Homo sapiens: one gene and its partners. The protein of the gene in region 1 purifies or fractionates together with the protein of each later gene. This does not show direct contact. Each region holds a gene or a part of one and is shown in the gene's direction. Other genes may lie near its edges.

What was found.
Region 2: the proteins of ALDH5A1 (region 1) and SEC31B fractionate together in Homo sapiens (co-fractionation; one large-scale study listed by BioGRID). This does not show direct contact.
Region 3: the proteins of ALDH5A1 (region 1) and SLC34A2 fractionate together in Homo sapiens (co-fractionation; one large-scale study listed by BioGRID). This does not show direct contact.

Annotation. Positions count from the first base shown.
Region 1 is NC_000006.12:24,501,316-24,504,968, forward strand, and holds part of ALDH5A1 (succinate-semialdehyde dehydrogenase, mitochondrial isoform 2 precursor), read left to right. Parts: intron 1-1,207; coding exon 1,208-1,291; intron 1,292-1,947; coding exon 1,948-2,118; intron 2,119-3,553; coding exon 3,554-3,653. UniProt on the Homo sapiens protein: Catalyzes one step in the degradation of the inhibitory neurotransmitter gamma-aminobutyric acid (GABA).
Region 2 is NC_000010.11:100,495,753-100,499,405, reverse strand, and holds part of SEC31B (protein transport protein Sec31B), read left to right. Parts: intron 1-147; coding exon 148-246; intron 247-601; coding exon 602-701; intron 702-1,198; coding exon 1,199-1,377; intron 1,378-1,612; coding exon 1,613-1,739; intron 1,740-2,125; coding exon 2,126-2,271; intron 2,272-2,974; coding exon 2,975-3,148; intron 3,149-3,653.
Region 3 is NC_000004.12:25,672,772-25,676,123, forward strand, and holds part of SLC34A2 (sodium-dependent phosphate transport protein 2B), read left to right. Parts: intron 1-315; coding exon 316-483; intron 484-1,524; coding exon 1,525-1,641; intron 1,642-1,733; coding exon 1,734-1,858; intron 1,859-3,352. UniProt on the Homo sapiens protein: Involved in actively transporting phosphate into cells via Na(+) cotransport.

The DNA of each region.
Region 1 (3,653 bases):
TTGCCAATTCTGCATGTACTAGTCCTCTAGAAATAGGTTAAACTGAATCAACTTGATGGAAGGAACTCTCCACAGGGCTTGTTTTCCAAAGAAAAGTATAGTTTGGAGAAGCAAAGTTACAAGCCTACCTAAGCATATCATAAAGCTGTTCAGAAATAACTCAGAGCCAGTCTCGTGGATGGAAATGTAGTGCCTGAGTCACATTCTGCTTAAAGTTGTAACAGACACAGAGGAGTTAAAAAAATAGCTGAGCGTGATGATGTGTGCCTGTGGTCCCAGCTACTCAGTAGTAGGCTGAGCTGGGGGGATCACTTGAACCAAGGAAGCAGAGGTTGCAGTGAGGTATGATCACACCACTGCACTTCAGCCTGGGTGACAGAACAAAACCCTGTCTCTTTTTTAAAATTTTTTTAAATTTTTGATTTTTTTTATTTGTGTGCTTTTCATTGTCCAAACCCAGACCCTGTCTCAAAAACAAACAATCAAAAAACACAGAAGTTCAATGTATGTTTCCCCAAGCATCTTACTCAGGGTTGTCCAGAAAAATAGAACCAATGTTTTATATATATATATATATATATGTGTGTGTGTGTGTGTGGGTGTATATATATATGTGTGTGTGTGTATATATATATGTGTATGTGTGTATATATATAATCATAGATATGTAGGAATATAGGAAGAGACTTCTTATAAAGGACTGGCTCATGTGACTGTGGATGCTAAGAAGTCCCACCCTCTGCTGTCTGCAAGCTGGAGACCTAAGAAAGCTGATATGTCCAGTCTGAGTTCCAGACTGGGTCCAAAGTCCTGAGTACCAGGAATGACAATGTCTGGTGTCTGACAACAGGAGGAAATGGATGTCCTAGCTCATGCAGAGAGTGAATTTGCTCTTCCTCTGCCACTTTGTTCTTTTCAGGTTCTCAGCAGATTGGATGATACCCACCTGAATTTTTGAAGGCAAATCTTCTTTATTCAGTCTACTGATTCAAATGCTAATCTCTTCCGAAAACACTCACGGACATACCCAGAAATGATGTTTTACCAGCTATCTGGGTCTCCCAGTCAAATTTACACATAAAATTAACCATTACAACCAAGGAGAATGAGACCATACAGCTAATATTTTAGGATATTGAATTTTATTTAGCATTCTGTCTTACACTTGGCATTTTATTACTTTTCTGCCTTGTTATTTCTTTTGCAGGAGAGGAGTTCATTACTTCGGAAGTGGTACAATTTAATGATACAAAATAAGGATGACCTTGCCAGAATAATCACAGCTGAAAGTGTAAGTTCAGGGTTCTGGCTTGGTGCACTGAGAAATTCTCCAGGAATTTTTACACTAAACTTGGGAAAGCCGCTGACTTCCCTTCACTGCTGGCTGTAGCTGAAGAATATGTGATTCCTTCTCTACTGATCAAATACCAAATCATTATTGTGCCAGGGTACTTAGATTTGCTAAAATAATATTTGTATGTTCTAGTTTATTCTTTAATAGTATCCAAAAATAGATTTTGTTTGCAACTATATGAATAACTGCTGTTTCACCATTCTGATTTTTTTCCATGTTACTGTTTTGGTTGTTTTTTTTTTTAAACTTGTTTTTGTACATTTTTTAATGTACCAATACTTCTTCCATAGATATAATAAATTATTTCATATCGTGGTTACAATACTTAGAAGATATTGAAAGGAGGAAAAAATTAGATGTTTCCTAATTTGTAAACATATTGAGAATGCAATGACTTGTGGTTTAGGGTGATACATTCATCATTGTAATTCTGCTTTTTAAAACTCACACCAAAGTCAGAAATTTTCCCCACTCTATGGGTATCGTTATAGGAGACTTTTCTACTCTTGTTGCATCTTGAAGAATTTAGGAACACAGAGCCATGCTTTTATTATTAGAAGGTAATACGTGGGTTCTTTTCTGATTTAATTTAGGGAAAGCCACTGAAGGAGGCACATGGAGAAATTCTCTATTCCGCCTTTTTCCTAGAGTGGTTCTCTGAGGAAGCCCGCCGTGTTTACGGAGACATTATCCACACCCCGGCAAAGGACAGGCGGGCCCTGGTCCTCAAGCAGCCCATAGGCGTGGCTGCAGTCATCACCCCGGTAGGTGACAGGATCAGCAAGATCCTAGGGTGGGAGATTGGATAGGGAGTTGGGAAACAATTCATTCTTCCTCGTGAGCAGGTGTGCTCATCCTGTTAGTTTTGTCACCTGTTCCTGGTTTCCTGATGCTTTTGCTGGATGTGGAAGTGTGTTTCCTAGTCCTCTGTGATGATGTTAGGTGTGGTGGCAGTGAGTGGAATGATGCATTTCTAATGCCTGCAAAAGTGGGATGAGCCGCAGGAGGACCCAGGGGCTCTTCTGACTTGGCATGGAGGCTTCTTCCTGGCATTGCCTAGCACCTCTGAAAAGATCTTCCAGTATTTATCATTTTTAAAAAGACTTAAGATATGATACATTTTTAAACTTGCCATAGTTTGGAAAAAAGTGTTATGCTTAATTGATGGTTATCATCAATAACAAAGCATTTGTGGACCCACTAGCAGGCACTGGGCCAGGTTCTAGAGGTAAAAAGGCTAAGAAATAAGGTATCACATCTGCCTGGATGGGGCTGCAGTATATTTGTGGAACGCCCAGCTTTCCTTCTGGGTCCTGCCTTCTACTAGGTCCCATATTAACCTCTCTCCTGTATCTGTCAGCTGGTCTCGAGACGTCTGTGTTTTTCCTGCTCAGCATAGTTACAGACAGAATCCCCCTGATTGCCTAGACTGGCTAGGTTTGACTTGAAGGTCACTATTTACTAAATGTGCAACCTTGGCCAAATTACTTAACTGCACTGTCTCCGTTTTCTTGAACTTGCAAATGAGGTTAATATCAACCTCATTGGGTTGTGATAAGGATTTAATTAATTTTAATTTTGAAGTACTTAGAAAAATACCTGATACAGAGTAAGTACTATATAATAGAGTTTTTCAAAATAAAATAAAATACTGTTATTATAGGTATATGTATAGGCATTTATAAATATGTATGTGGAAGGAATAATAAATCATCTGCCATTTTCAAAACCATTGCTAATACTTACTCCCATGGGCCTCAGGCCAAATCCAGCCCACTGCCTATGTTTGTAAATAAAGTTTTATTGGGACACAGCCACACCCATTCATACACCTACTATCTGTGGCTGTTTTCACAATACAGCTGCAGAGTTGAGTAATTGCCATAGAAACCATACATTCTACAAAGCCTAAAAAATTTACGATCTGGCCCTTCACAGAAAAAGTTGGCTGACCCCTGGTCTAACTAATTTTTTACTGTGTTAAATTCTAAAAATATTTCCTGTCTTCAAGAGCCTTTATCTCAGAGTCCCTCAAGTTGGCGGGGGGGTCAGGTGTTCTGAGAGCTCACCTGTGCAGCCAAACGGGTTTGTCAATCAGTTGTGCAATGAAATTTGTTCACTGACTTCCCAACATGCCTTCCTTTGCACTAAGGAGGTGGTCCTTCCTCTCACATACTTCCTCTGCTCTTCTAACCCCAGTGGAATTTCCCCAGTGCCATGATCACCCGGAAGGTGGGGGCCGCCCTGGCAGCCGGCTGTACTGTCGTGGTGAAGCCTGCCGAAGACACGCCCTTCTCCG
Region 2 (3,653 bases), on another chromosome or scaffold:
ACATCCTGGAGTTTGTTTTTTTCTCAGAAAAAAATAGATCAGGGATCTTAGAGAGTACAGTTGGTGGGGTATGGAGATAGGAAAAGAGGATAATGCTTATTTGATCTTACGCTTGAAAGAGCGGTTTTCAGAGGTCTCTCCCTGCAGGTGGCCACATGGTTGAAGAGTGACGTGGGGCTAGGTGAGAGTCCTCAGCCCAAGGGAAATGACCTCAACAGTGACAGACAACAGGCCTTCTGCAGCCAGGTGTGGTAGGAGTCCAGTCAGCCTGACCTATGGTAACACAGGAAACCTGCCTTTTGGGCATCTTTCCCTTCCTGGCCCTTTTCTTTGCTGTCTGTAAGTGTTTAGCGTCTGTAGAAGTCTTCAGACTCCTCACTCTCTTAGAACCAGAGTGAGACACAGAGTCCCTAAGCTTTTGGGCTGGGAGTGGAGAGCTGTGTCTTAACCATGAACTATGGCCCTCCCCAAACCTTACCTGGCTATTTTTTTAGTTTTACCCATTAACGGCCAAATAGTAGAGCTCTCAGGGCTACTAAGCCAGCTCTCTGTCTGTCTTGGGTTCATCCCTAAGTAGTCACCTCTGTCCTTCCTCATACAGGCCTCCAAACACACCACAAAGGAAGCCTCTGCTTCCTCAGCCTTCTTTGATGAGCTGGTCCCTCAGAACATGACTCCTTGGGAGATCCCCATCACAAAAGGTACCCTGACCCTGAGGGAGAGGGAGAGTCTCTGCTTAGGACTAGGTGGGCACGGAGGTTTTGGACTTGAGACATTCCCTTCTTGTCCCCTGCCTCGTGCCTTCCTCCCACCGTCTCAAATGCTGAGTGAGTCGCTTACCAGTTAGAGCTCTCTCTGGTTGTAGATTTTCATGGATACGTCCTTCCTATGGAAGGCCTTCTACCAACAGATTTTCTTCTATCCTTCTTGCTGAAAGGACTGTGGCCCTGCCCACTGTGATCAAGCACACCTCACACTGTGCTACTGCCACATCAGTTCCCTCCCTTGTCTTGGGCCCTGTCTTTAGACCTGGGCACCAAAATACATTTTATTGCCAAGGAGTGAAACTTGAGGATTTAGTTTGGAGCCAAGCACACTGAGTGATATAGAGATATAGAGGGTGTGCTGTGGGCCCTGCAGGGGGCAGGAAGTTGGGGTTTGAGAGCAACTAATGCACAGGGGATGCTTCTGCCTGCAGATATTGATGGACTCCTAAGCCAGGCTCTCCTGCTTGGGGAACTGGGTCCGGCCGTGGAGCTGTGTCTGAAGGAGGAGCGCTTTGCTGATGCCATTATCCTGGCCCAGGCTGGGGGTACAGATCTGCTGAAGCAAACACAGGAGCGCTACTTGGCCAAGAAGAAAACCAAAATCTCCTCGGTAACTGCCCATCATGCAGGAGAAGAAGGGAGGGGATTACTTGGACCTTGTGAGGTGGATACCCACACCTTGGGACCCATGTTTGAGTATCTGCCTGCCTCTCTCTTTCTACTCTAACCACCCCCACCTCATCCCTTGCCCCTACTCAGTGCTCTAACAGGAGGCCTGTGCAGGAATCCTGCTGCCTATGCTGGATGGATGGCTGATGGTCTCTTTCCCTCTCTGCCCATTACAGCTTCTAGCCTGTGTTGTGCAAAAGAATTGGAAGGATGTGGTGTGTACCTGTAGCCTGAAGAACTGGAGAGAGGCACTGGCTTTGCTACTGACATACTCAGGCACAGAGAAATTTCCCGAGCTCTGTGGTAAGTGTGGTCCCAGGCTTCAGGATGAAATGGTGTGACTCCAGCATGGAGTCAAAGGATGCATGCAGGAGGGAGGTGGAGGAGCAGACTGAGCTGTGGGAGGCGAGGCAATGTTGTCAGGGCTAGAATCTGGCTCAGCCAGGAGGCAGGGACCACAGTGCATGCCCCTATTTTCAGAGGGGATCCTTTGTTGTCCTGTTTTACCTTGTCTTGTCACACCATGATGTGAGAACTTTCCCCTTCTCTGTACAGCAAGGTGAGTCTCAGTGTTGTCTTAAACTGCAGCTACTTGTCCCAGGCTCATGGTCCTCTCCCTGTTTCCAAACAGGAGAAGGAGAGGCACACAGGGCAGCTGTGCCATTAATGAAATTACCCTCTCTCTGCAGACATGCTGGGAACTCGCATGGAACAGGAGGGCAGCAGGGCACTAACCTCCGAAGCCAGACTCTGTTATGTGTGCTCAGGGAGTGTGGAGCGGCTGGTGGAGTGCTGGGCAAAATGCCACCAGGCTTTGTCCCCCATGGCTCTGCAGGTACCCCTTCTCTGCAGGGTACTGGCCACTCCACACCAGGCCCTTAGGAGGCTAGTGGTGGAGATGTGCAGAGCTAGCAGAGGCGAATCTTCTGGGACAGGCTGGAACCACGGTGTTAGGGAGGAGCGAAAGGTCCTGAATGTCTGGGATCTTCTCCTCTTCCCTCAGAGAAGACTAAGCAGCAGCTGCTTCAGTGTTAGTCTTCATAATTTTTTTCCTATTTCAGGTTTGGTTTTACAGATGTATTCAGTACTTGAGTAATTGTGGCTTGGCCCTTCTATTAGCTACTGTGGAAAGTTCTGTGGATCTAAACTTCCAGGTGTTCTGTGGGTGACCACAGAAAGTGGGGGTCACAGACTCATGGAGAGACAAAAGTCGCACATGAAACAATTAGTCTGACAGAGTCTGTGGTTGGTGATGTATAAGCAGAAAGGGTAAAAAAGCAAAAGGAAGAGGTAGAGATGTACAAAAATCTAAGACCCAGATGGGTCCAGTTAAATCCAATCCTAACAGCTTGGGAGGTGAGGCCAGGTGGCCCTTCTCTGTCACAGTTCTTACGTGTCATCATCTGCTGCCTTCACCTAGGTATGGTCAGGTGCCCTCATCTGTACCCATAGTGGGAGATCCCTGAATGAGCTGCGTGGACTTAGAGAGCAGGATATGCCTCATTGAAGGCTTACCACCCTCATCCTTGCCCTTACAGGACCTGATGGAGAAGGTGATGGTTCTTAACAGGAGCTTGGAGCAACTGCGGGGTCCTCATGGGGTGAGCCCAGGCCCTGCCACAACCTACAGGGTCACTCAGTATGCCAACCTCCTGGCAGCCCAGGGCAGCCTGGCCACTGCCATGAGCTTTCTACCCAGGGACTGTGCTCAGGTAAGTGGGGCCATGTGGAGAGAGCAAACCATTTCATTCAGTCATCTAACATTGATTGAGCACTTCCATATTCCAGGCACTATGCTAATGCTGAAGCTCCTAGGATAGATAAGATGGAATCCCTTAAGCACCTCACAATCTACTGGGGGAAGATCAGATGTTGATGACTTATAGTGCCATAACAGAAGCTTATACTGAGCACTGTGGGAGTCCAGGGAAGGGACTGATTTTTGCCTGGAGAAGTCAAGGAAGGCTTCTCAATGGTTAAAACAGCTGAGCTGGACCTTCAAAGAGAAGTAGCTTACCAGCAGATATAGAGCATTCTAAGCAGAAAGAATAGCAAGGAGGGAGGCATGCAAGTGTTTGGCAGGGATTCAGGAACCTTGAGTCATCTCTAAGGGGGCTAGAGTATAGAGCGGGGGTGTCCAAGGGTCAGAATACAGTCGTGGGTGCTTAGTTTCTGTTTCTGGTTGGGCCAGTAAAGCCCCTTCCTCATCCCGGTTTT
Region 3 (3,352 bases), on another chromosome or scaffold:
AAAAAAATTAGACCATCGACAGCATGGTCTTTAGAGACAGAACTGGGCTGAGTCTACCCCTGAACAGTTGTGTGATTTTTAAAGCCATCACTTCATCTTCCAGCCTCATGCGATCCCACTGATTATGACATAGTTTCAGTGGTGCCCCTTGCTGCGAAGGAGGCTGAGAAGGGCTGTCTTGATTTGGGGCTGCCATCTGTTAAACTAACAACCAGGAATCTGTTTGTAGGAAAGACAGGATCTGGGGGAATAAATAACAATCTGTAGCCGTGGTGGCTCCATGCCCTCCTGACAAGATTCTTTGTGGTCTTTCAGGCCAGCATATCTTTGTGAATTTCCACCTCCCGGATCTTGCTGTGGGCACCATCTTGCTCATACTCTCCCTGCTGGTCCTCTGTGGTTGCCTGATCATGATTGTCAAGATCCTGGGCTCTGTGCTCAAGGGGCAGGTCGCCACTGTCATCAAGAAGACCATCAACACTGGTAGGTACACTGCCCTCACTTGTAGGCCTCACATGTAGTCACTGCATGGGGTGTGGGGGTCCTTTAGATTCCCATCTAGCAATGGCCTCTGCATGGAGTTTCTCTCTCAGATTGGATCAGCACCAGAAGTGAGGATGTCATTCACCTGGAAATGTTCTTGGCATCCTGGGTGGGGTCTAGGGAGCAGGCCCAAGTTTCCATTGCATCTTGGCAAGGTCCTGAGCAGGAGTTCATATCTAGAGAGCTGTGAGTCAGGCCTTCCTTCTTAGCGGGTTTCCTGTATGCTCAGAGCTTTACTGGCTCTGTCAAGACCCCTTAGAAAAAGGACCCCAGGTGTCTGCCCTCGCCCCCACCTCCCTTCACTCTTGTAAAGGAAATGTGATGCATAAATACATCAGCATCTAGAGGTGGCCAATGAGACTGCTGGCTAAGAGGATTTCCTGCCAAGTAGGGTGTCCTGGCCAATGAGAGCTCGCTAAGCCAATGACATCATCACTTCATGAAAGCTCAGTGAAATATAGCCAAGAAAATTCGCCCCCCACCCCAGATTGTCTTGGGGAACAGAGCAACTCTGGGTGCTTCTGGGAAATGCAGGGCCTGATCCGGTGCTAGTTGGGTGGAGGACTCAGTTGGCAGGCATGTTCCAAGCTGCTACAGTTTCTTGATGCTCTTTAAGGCAGAAATGAAGGTTGAAGGTCAAATGTGGGTGCTGACAGGAGACCAGGGCAGGCGAGGAAGCATGCTCTCAGCACTTTCTGGAAGGAGAGTGGTTACTTGGGTGGGTTCACTCTTTCTAACCTGACCTCCAGGGAATCTGTGTTTTTGTTTTCATAACACTTACCTGTATCCTTGGTTTTTCCATCTGAATATGCGGAGCAAAAGACAATGGGGAATGAAACTGGATTCTAAAACTCTACTCTGTAATCTGAGACCATATATGGGATGATGTACAACCTCACCCCTAAGCCCAGCCCCTACCCCAGGCCACCAGGCCATACCTTCCCCGGAGAGGCCATGACATCTCTTCCTTCTGTCTTCCAGATTTCCCCTTTCCCTTTGCATGGTTGACTGGCTACCTGGCCATCCTCGTCGGGGCAGGCATGACCTTCATCGTACAGAGCAGCTCTGTGTTCACGTCGGCCTTGACCCCCCTGATTGGTGAGTTACACCCTGGCTTCTCCCTCTGGCCACCACTGCCATTTCCTGTCATCCCATGGGGCTGATATGTTTGTGTTTTGTGTTTCCCCCAGGAATCGGCGTGATAACCATTGAGAGGGCTTATCCACTCACGCTGGGCTCCAACATCGGCACCACCACCACCGCCATCCTGGCCGCCTTAGCCAGCCCTGGCAATGCATTGAGGAGTTCACTCCAGGTCAGGACTTGGGGCACGGGGACAGGGGCCCTGGGAGTGGGACCACCCATGGTCTTGCAAACTGGTCTCTAACAAGAGCCAGGCTTTTCTCTGTACTATCCAAAATATGGAACTAATATGTGGAGGGGAAGCCACGGGTAAAGTTTTCAGGACCTTGATATGAGAACAATCAAAACTATCAGTTCTGAGAGAAGCAGTAAGACCCTCATAACTGGTGGTTGTTTCAGCAAAAGTGGGGTGGCCCCTTGATATAGATGTGGAAAAGGTACTTAGGAAGCACAGACACCACCTCCCATCTCCTCACTGCCTCCTATGGGGAACTTTACAATTAGGAGAACTCCTTGGCATGGACCATCTATGTTACTTTGTGCAAGACCTTTGGGATTTGAATTTATTTATTTATTTTTATTTTATTTTTTTGAGACAGAGTCTCGCACTGTAGCCCAGGCTGGAGTGCAGTGATACAATCTCCACTCACTGCAACCTCCACCTCCCAGGTTCAAGTGATTTTCCTGCCTCAGCCTCCCGAGCAGCTGGGATTACAGGCACCTGCCACCACACCTGGCTGATTTTTTGTATTTTTAGTAGAGACGGGGTTTCCCTATGTTGGCCAGGCTGGTCTTGAACTCTGGACCTCATGATGTGCTTGCCTTGGCCTCCCAAAGTGCTGGGATTACAGGCGTGAGCCACTGCACCCAGCCGGGGATTTGAATTCTTATCTCACCATTTACATACTAAGTGACCTTTGGCAAGTGATCTAACCTGAGCGTCAATTCCCTCATCTGAAAGATGGAGGACATAACCCCTATCTCATTAGGATTATTATAAAGATCTGATGAGGCAAAGCCATCTGTGCAACAGAAATAGAAATTCAGGCATCTAATATAAATTAACCGCATATGTCATCCTAAAATTTTTTAGTAGATACATTTTTAAAAGTAGAAACAGGCTGATTCATTCTTCAATAATGTATTTGATCTAAACCATTATCACTTTAATATGTCATCTGTCAAAAATTGAGAGTCTTTGAAATCTGGTGTGTATTTCATACTTAAAGCACATCTCAGTGTGGACATGCGGCTAGTGTATTGGACAGTGCTGGTCCACAGCCTGGGCATGGAAATTGGCACCTTGGGAAAGTGACCAAGCGCCTGGCCTCTGGAGCCAGGCTCCCAGGATGTGAATTTCCACCTCTTCCATCTCCCACCTGTGGGACTTGAGGAGCCTCCATTTTCTCATGTCAAGAAATAATGGTTGCCACTCTGTAGAGTGTTTTTTGAGAATTGAGATAATGCACAGTTGAGTGCTCCTGGCCCTCCCAGACACATAGTAGGTCCTCATGGAATCCAGGTACCCTCTGGGCTGAGCCATAAGGACAAAGAAGGCCTGGAAGGCCCGAGACTGTGCTGCCTGTGATGCCTGCTAGCTTACCTCCCCCTCCTCCTCCCTACTGCCACCCGCATTGGGCAACAGGCCCCTCACCTGTCCAACCTC